2 separate regions of the Homo sapiens genome follow, and region 1 is linked to region 2. Evidence: fine-mapped expression QTL. A gene starts in region 2. The other region holds a variant in brackets. All regions are shown on one strand. Distances are from middle to middle. Region 1 overlaps PXN (paxillin). Region 2 holds the start of GCN1 (GCN1 activator of EIF2AK4).

The links. PIP is the estimated chance that this variant, and not a neighbour inherited with it, causes the effect. A credible set is the group of variants that fine-mapping cannot tell apart.
Region 1: its variant is the best candidate, but not a certain one, in a credible set for the expression of GCN1 in liver (GTEx, PIP 0.56).

Annotation. Positions count from the first base shown.
Region 1 is chr12:120,220,784-120,223,682 of GRCh38, reverse strand. It overlaps PXN (paxillin), which reads left to right. Exons shown (of 15, transcript NM_001385981.1): 4 at 684-820; 5 at 933-1,134; 6 at 1,925-2,060. LOC124903034 (a long non-coding RNA gene) reads right to left here. Exons shown (of 3, transcript XR_007063487.1): 1 at 2,758-2,899; 2 at 1-2,368. Among named protein-coding and RNA genes, the nearest start is that of PXN-AS1, 21 kb to the right of the region's middle. The variant G/A (reference allele first, on the strand shown) is at 1,489.
Region 2 is chr12:120,193,293-120,196,191 of GRCh38, reverse strand. GCN1 (GCN1 activator of EIF2AK4) reads left to right here and starts at 1,477. Exons shown (of 58, transcript NM_006836.2): 1 at 1,477-1,512. The coding sequence starts at 1,495. RefSeq lists a silencer at 1,180-1,769.

The DNA.
Region 1 (2,899 bases), 27 kb before region 2:
TGCTTAGAAATCTCAGGGACCTGGCCAGGGTGGGAGGCAGCGGAGGCCCGGGAGCAGGCATAGCAACTGGGCCTTGTGGGGTTATTCTGGTTTAAGCTGCAGAAGGCCTGTCGGTGGGCCCGTCTACCTCATCAGTGCCATCTCCATGCAGTGGACATTCTGGGCTATCACAGCATCTCCGTGTAGCTGAGGAACTGAAGCAAGACTTCATTCCTCCCCTCTTCTTTTTTTCTTTTTTTTTGAGACGGGGTCTCGCTCTGTCACTCTGTCGCCCAGGCTGGAGTGCAGTCGCGCGATCTCGGCTCACTGCAAGCTCCGCCTCCTGGGTTCACGCCATTCTCCTGCCTCAGCCTCCCAAGTAGCTGGGACTACAGGCACCCACCACCACGCCTGGCTAATTTTTAGTAGAGACGGGGTTTCACCGTGTTAGCCAGGATGGTCTCAATCTCCTGACCTCATGATCTGCCCGCCTCAGCCTCCCAAAGTGCTGGGATTACAGGCGTGAGCCACTGTGCCCGGCCTCCTCCCCTCTTCTTACCACATCCCTTCCCTACCCTCTGTCCTCTTGCGGGGGAAGACTTCGCATCTCCTCTGCCTTGTTCTCCTTGGGAATCTGGGAACTGCCAAGCCAGTACAAGGCCAGAAAGCATCTCTCACTATCTTCTTTCCTTTGCCTCTCAAAGCTTCCCCAACAAGCAGAAATCAGCTGAGCCTTCACCCACCGTAATGAGCACGTCCCTGGGCAGCAACCTTTCTGAACTCGACCGCCTGCTGCTGGAACTGAACGCTGTACAGCATAACCCGCCAGGCTTCCCTGCAGGTAGGACCGGGTCCCTGGGGCAGGGTCTACCAGGGCCCAGGGCCCATCTGCTGACCTCTAGATCCCAGGAGGGCTCAAGGGCTGAGCAGCCTTTTTCTCTCCTCTCTGCAAGATGAGGCCAACTCAAGCCCCCCGCTTCCTGGGGCCCTGAGCCCCCTCTATGGTGTCCCAGAGACTAACAGCCCCTTGGGAGGCAAAGCTGGGCCCCTGACGAAAGAGAAGCCTAAGCGGAATGGGGGCCGGGGCCTGGAGGACGTGCGGCCCAGTGTGGAGAGTCTCTTGGATGAACTGGAGAGCTCCGTGCCCAGCCCCGTGTGAGTACCCACTGGGCCCTCCCCAGGTGGGGAAGGGCTGGCCCAGCCTGCCCCGGGTCCAGTGTCTGTCCCCTTAGCCCTGGTATCACCCACTCCCTCCCGTGTCTGCCATTTGCCAGGCACTGGGGGGATAGTGGTGAGTCACATGGACACCATCCCTGCCTTCAGCCAGTCACTGCCAGTCAGAAAGGACAGACGTTGTGCAGGCTGAGGGCGCCTGGAGCTTAGCAGCTCTTAGCACAGGCTTTGGGGCCACACAGTGGGGTTCACATCTTGGCTCTGACAGTTACTGTCAGCTCTCAAGCCTTAGTTTTCCCATCTGTAAAATGGGACAAGAACTTATGGGATCACTGG[G/A]ATAAGACCACCTACCTCAGTAAGGGTGAGAACCAGTAATCCATGTAAAGCGCTTGGAATGGTTTCTGGTGTGTAGTGCGTGGCACACATGGTGAGTGCCCAACACGCGAGCTCTTACCAGTGCCGTCGTGTTACTGCAGTAGCCTCACCTCCATGTCCAGTGTTGTGGAGGAAACACAGGGCGCTTGGGCTTGTTTCGCAGGCCAGCTTTCACTTGGGCTGGGGGCTAGAGGAGTCTTCCTGGCACTTCCTGGTGCCATTGAACTGCCCTTTCTTCTGACCCAGTGATGGGTCCCCAGGAGAGACAGGGAGCTGGTGGACCTCCCTGGGGTTGGGGATGGTGAGACCCCAGTGTCCGAGGTGAGAGGTCGATCTGATCCCCGGGAAGTGTGGGGCTGACTGTGGGCTCCCCACTGATGCTGTGCCCACCCTGCAGCCCTGCCATCACTGTGAACCAGGGCGAGATGAGCAGCCCGCAGCGCGTCACCTCCACCCAACAGCAGACACGCATCTCGGCCTCCTCTGCCACCAGGGAGCTGGACGAGCTGATGGCTTCGCTGTCGGATTTCAAGGTGCCCTGTGAACCCTCCATCTTCCCTGCCCTGCCGCCCCTCCCTCATCCTTCTCCTCCCTTACCTCAGTGTGGGTAGCTGGATCTTGGCATCTCAGTGTTTGGGTGCCTTGCCCCTGAGCCAGGGACACTGTCATGCCCTGGCCTTGCTGTGATGCCAGGAGATGGGGAGGGAGGGCCGGGTCAGCCTGCCTGAGGATTGCAGTAGCCAGTGAAGGCAGACAAGCTGGAGAAGTGCTCAGCTGGGACATTCCTTCCTCCCTGGGTGCTCCCAGCCTCTCAGGTCGAGGGGATCAGGAGGCTGGGACGCTGGGACAAAGAACCTTGTGTTGATGGCTGCTCTGGGTGGGGGAGGGCATTCTCTGCTGGGCCATGTGGGACTTGGGAGCCTGTGCCTGGGAGGTCATTTGCCCTGGAGCCCCATCTCCCACGCTAGCTGTCCTCAACACATCCTCTTTCTTTCTGCCTCTGATCCTGAATCCACAAGCCTCCCTTGCTACTCTTCTCCCATCCTTCCCTCTCGCCCTCCAGGGCCTCTGAGTTCCCACGAGCGTGTCTGTGGGAAACCATGGGGCCAGGCTTGCACGAGGTACCTGCCCTTCCCCTCCCCTGCTGGGCCTCCCCAGTCCTGCCAGGCCTGAGATGTTTAATTTAGAGGATTCAGTGTTTCCTTGGGGATTGATATTGACAGAACTCACCAGCAGCTGCTGACTTCATACTTCCACGTGGGTCAGCTGGAGACCTTTGGGGCATGACCTAGGGAATATGAGAGGGGAGTGAACGGTCCCTGCACCCTTGGCCCTGATGGTGTCTCCTAGCCTCCCTTCAGCTGAGGTTTCA
Region 2 (2,899 bases):
TGTCAGCTGAGATAGGCACCTGGTGGATGCTGGGGCCAGTCCCCTAGAGTAAAGTTTTTCAAACTGGGTGGTGCTCCAACTCGGTGGTAACCAATTTATATTTTCGAGATAGTCTCAAATATATTTGAGACTGGGGTGCAGTGGCTTGGACTTGGCTCACTGCAACCTCCGCCTCCTGGGTTCAAGTGATTCTCCTGCCTCAGCCTCCCAAGTAGCTGCAATTACCGGAGGCTGCCACCACACCGGGCTAATTTTTTTGTTGTTGAGACAGTCTCGTCCTGTCACCCAGACTGGAGTGCAATGGTATGGTCTCAGCTCACTGCAACCTCTGCCTCTCGGGTTCAAGCGGTTCTCCCACCTCAGCCTCCCCAGTAGCTGGGACTACAGGCATGTGCCACCACTCGGCTAATTTTTGTACTTTTAGTAGAGACGGGGTTTCACTATGTTGGCCAGGCTGGTCTGGAACTCCTGACCTTGTGATCTGCCCGCCCTGTCCTCCCGAAGCGCTGGAATTATACAAGGGTGAGCCACCGCACCCGGCCTTTTTTTTTTTTTTTTTTTTTTTTGGTATTTTTAGTAGAGACAAGGTTTTGTCATGTTGACCAGGCTGGTCTGGAAATCCTAACATCAGGTTGATCTACCCACCTCAGCCTCCCAAAGTGCTGGGATTACAGGCGTGAGCCACCATGCCTGGCCCCAGTATTTAAAGAGAAAGCAGCATCTGCTGAGAATAGGTGTTTTTGTTGTGATTCCTGTATTTCACTTAGAGATCTGTCTGCTGGAACATGATATATTCATTCTAACTAGGTCTGTGTCAAAGGTTTGAAAGCCACTGCTAACAGGGCTGACAACTAAGCTGTGGAGACCCTGTTCCCTAAATTGCAGCCACGTCTGCACGTAGCCTCTTGCCCTGTGGCCTTCAAAACTCCCAGCCTGGGGCGTCCAGCATTTCCCCAGGGCAGGGGCCTCGTTCAGTTCTGAACCTTCCCTGACCTCCGTATCCAGCCACGTTTGCTAACCCTGTACAAGTCATCCGCCAACTGAACTACAAACTGAGGACAAAAGACTAGTTCACCGACTCTTTTACCTAGTTTTTAGTTCCTGCTATCTAGGAAGCAACACTTGTTTTTCTAAAGAACTTAGTCATCACTCAGGAAAGGCCCACGTAGGGCTGGCCCTGCGGGCTGGAAGTGGGTCAGGGGCTGCAAGGCGGGCCCATAGCGTTACACCGCGGGCTCACCACGTTACAAGCGCTAGTCTCCCACGAGGCGCCCGGGGCTGAAGAGCGGGCCCTGGGGAGGAGGCCTTGTGGCTCGGGCGCGGGCCAACTTTAAGCCCGTGATCCGGCTGCCCGGGCTGCAGCGGCCGCCGTCCTGCCCGGGGGCACCAAGCCCGGGGCCCTGCCCCCGCTGGCTCCCGGCCTCGCCCTGCCGCGTGGGCCACGCTGTGACCCGGAAGCGTTCCGGAAGCGGTTCCGGAGTCAGCCCCGGCAGGATGGCGGCGGACACGCAGGTGAGGCGGGCGGCTGCGGGGCCAACGCGGCCAGGGACTGGGTGCGGACGGTGGCCGTCGGGCGGGGCCCCTCTCGCTCCTCGGCTTAGGGGCGTTGGAGGTGGTGGCTGTGGAGGTCGTAGTCTCGGGGCCGTCTCAGGCTGGACTCTCAGGGCTGCGGGCTTGGCCCGGCCCGGGCGGCGCAGGCAGACCGCGGGCTCGAGGAGTCCGGGGCTCCCGCCTCGACTTCAGCAGCTGGAGCTCGGCGGGGCCTTTGCCCGACCCCAGAGTTGCAGAAGTTCACTTTACCGAGCCTCTACTTCTTTTCTCCAAAGCCCTCCGGCTGTGAGCCCCGGGCCAACGCCAAGTCTTCCTTAAACTTTGTATTCAGCAAATATTCTTTGAGCACCTACTATGAGCAGGGACTTTGAGTGTAGTCTTTGGATTCATACAGATCTGGGCTTGAGTTCCTGCTCGTCGATTTCTGTGACATGCCAAACAAGTGACTTAACCCCGCCAAGTCTGCCTTTTCATCTATAAAATGAAGTTAAAACAATACTTATCTTAAAAGGTTGTTGTGAAGGTTCAGTGAGATAAAATACGGCTTGATATATGTTGGTTGTTATCAGATCCAGGGTTAGTGAAAAGAACTGTCCTGTCCAGGAAGAGTGTTACCTATGGGTACCTTGTAGTTCAGGAAGGACCTGGGAAAACCTTTTCCTCCACCCAGTTGTTATGTTTTAAGGTGAAAAGACATTGTCATGAGGCAGGGGAAGAACAGGTGTCTAAGGACAGCTGGGCTGATTTGGTGTCTCCAGGGTGATGGGATTGATTTTTATGTGTAGGCCCAGAAAATGACCACTTAAGCATTCAAAAAGACATTTACTGAGACTCCTATGCAGGTGGCTGATGTTCAAGTTATGTTGTACTGAATACTAGAAAGAAAAGCTTAGTATGAGAGGGTTAGGGGAATACATGCTGAATGTTTAACATTGATACTCACTTGAGGGAAAAATCTCTAGAGCTGCAATGTCCAGTATGGCAGCCACATGGCTTAAGTTTGTTAAAATTAAATTAAATAAAAAAATTCATTGTTTGGCTGGGCGTGGTGGCTCACCCTGTAATCCCAGCACTTTGGGAGGCCAAGGCGGGTGGATCAGTTGAGGTCAGGAGTTTGAGACTAGTCTGACCAACGTGGCAAAACCCCGTCTCTACTAAAAATGCAAAAAATTAACCGGGTATGGTGGCATGTCTGTAATTCCAGCTACTCAGGAGGCTGAGGCATGAGAATCGCTTGAACCTGGGAGGCAGAGGTTGCAGTGAGCTGAGATCGCACCACTGCGCTCCAGCCTGAGCAACAAGAGTGGGACTCTGTCTCAAAAAAAAAAAAAATTTAGTTCTTCACTTG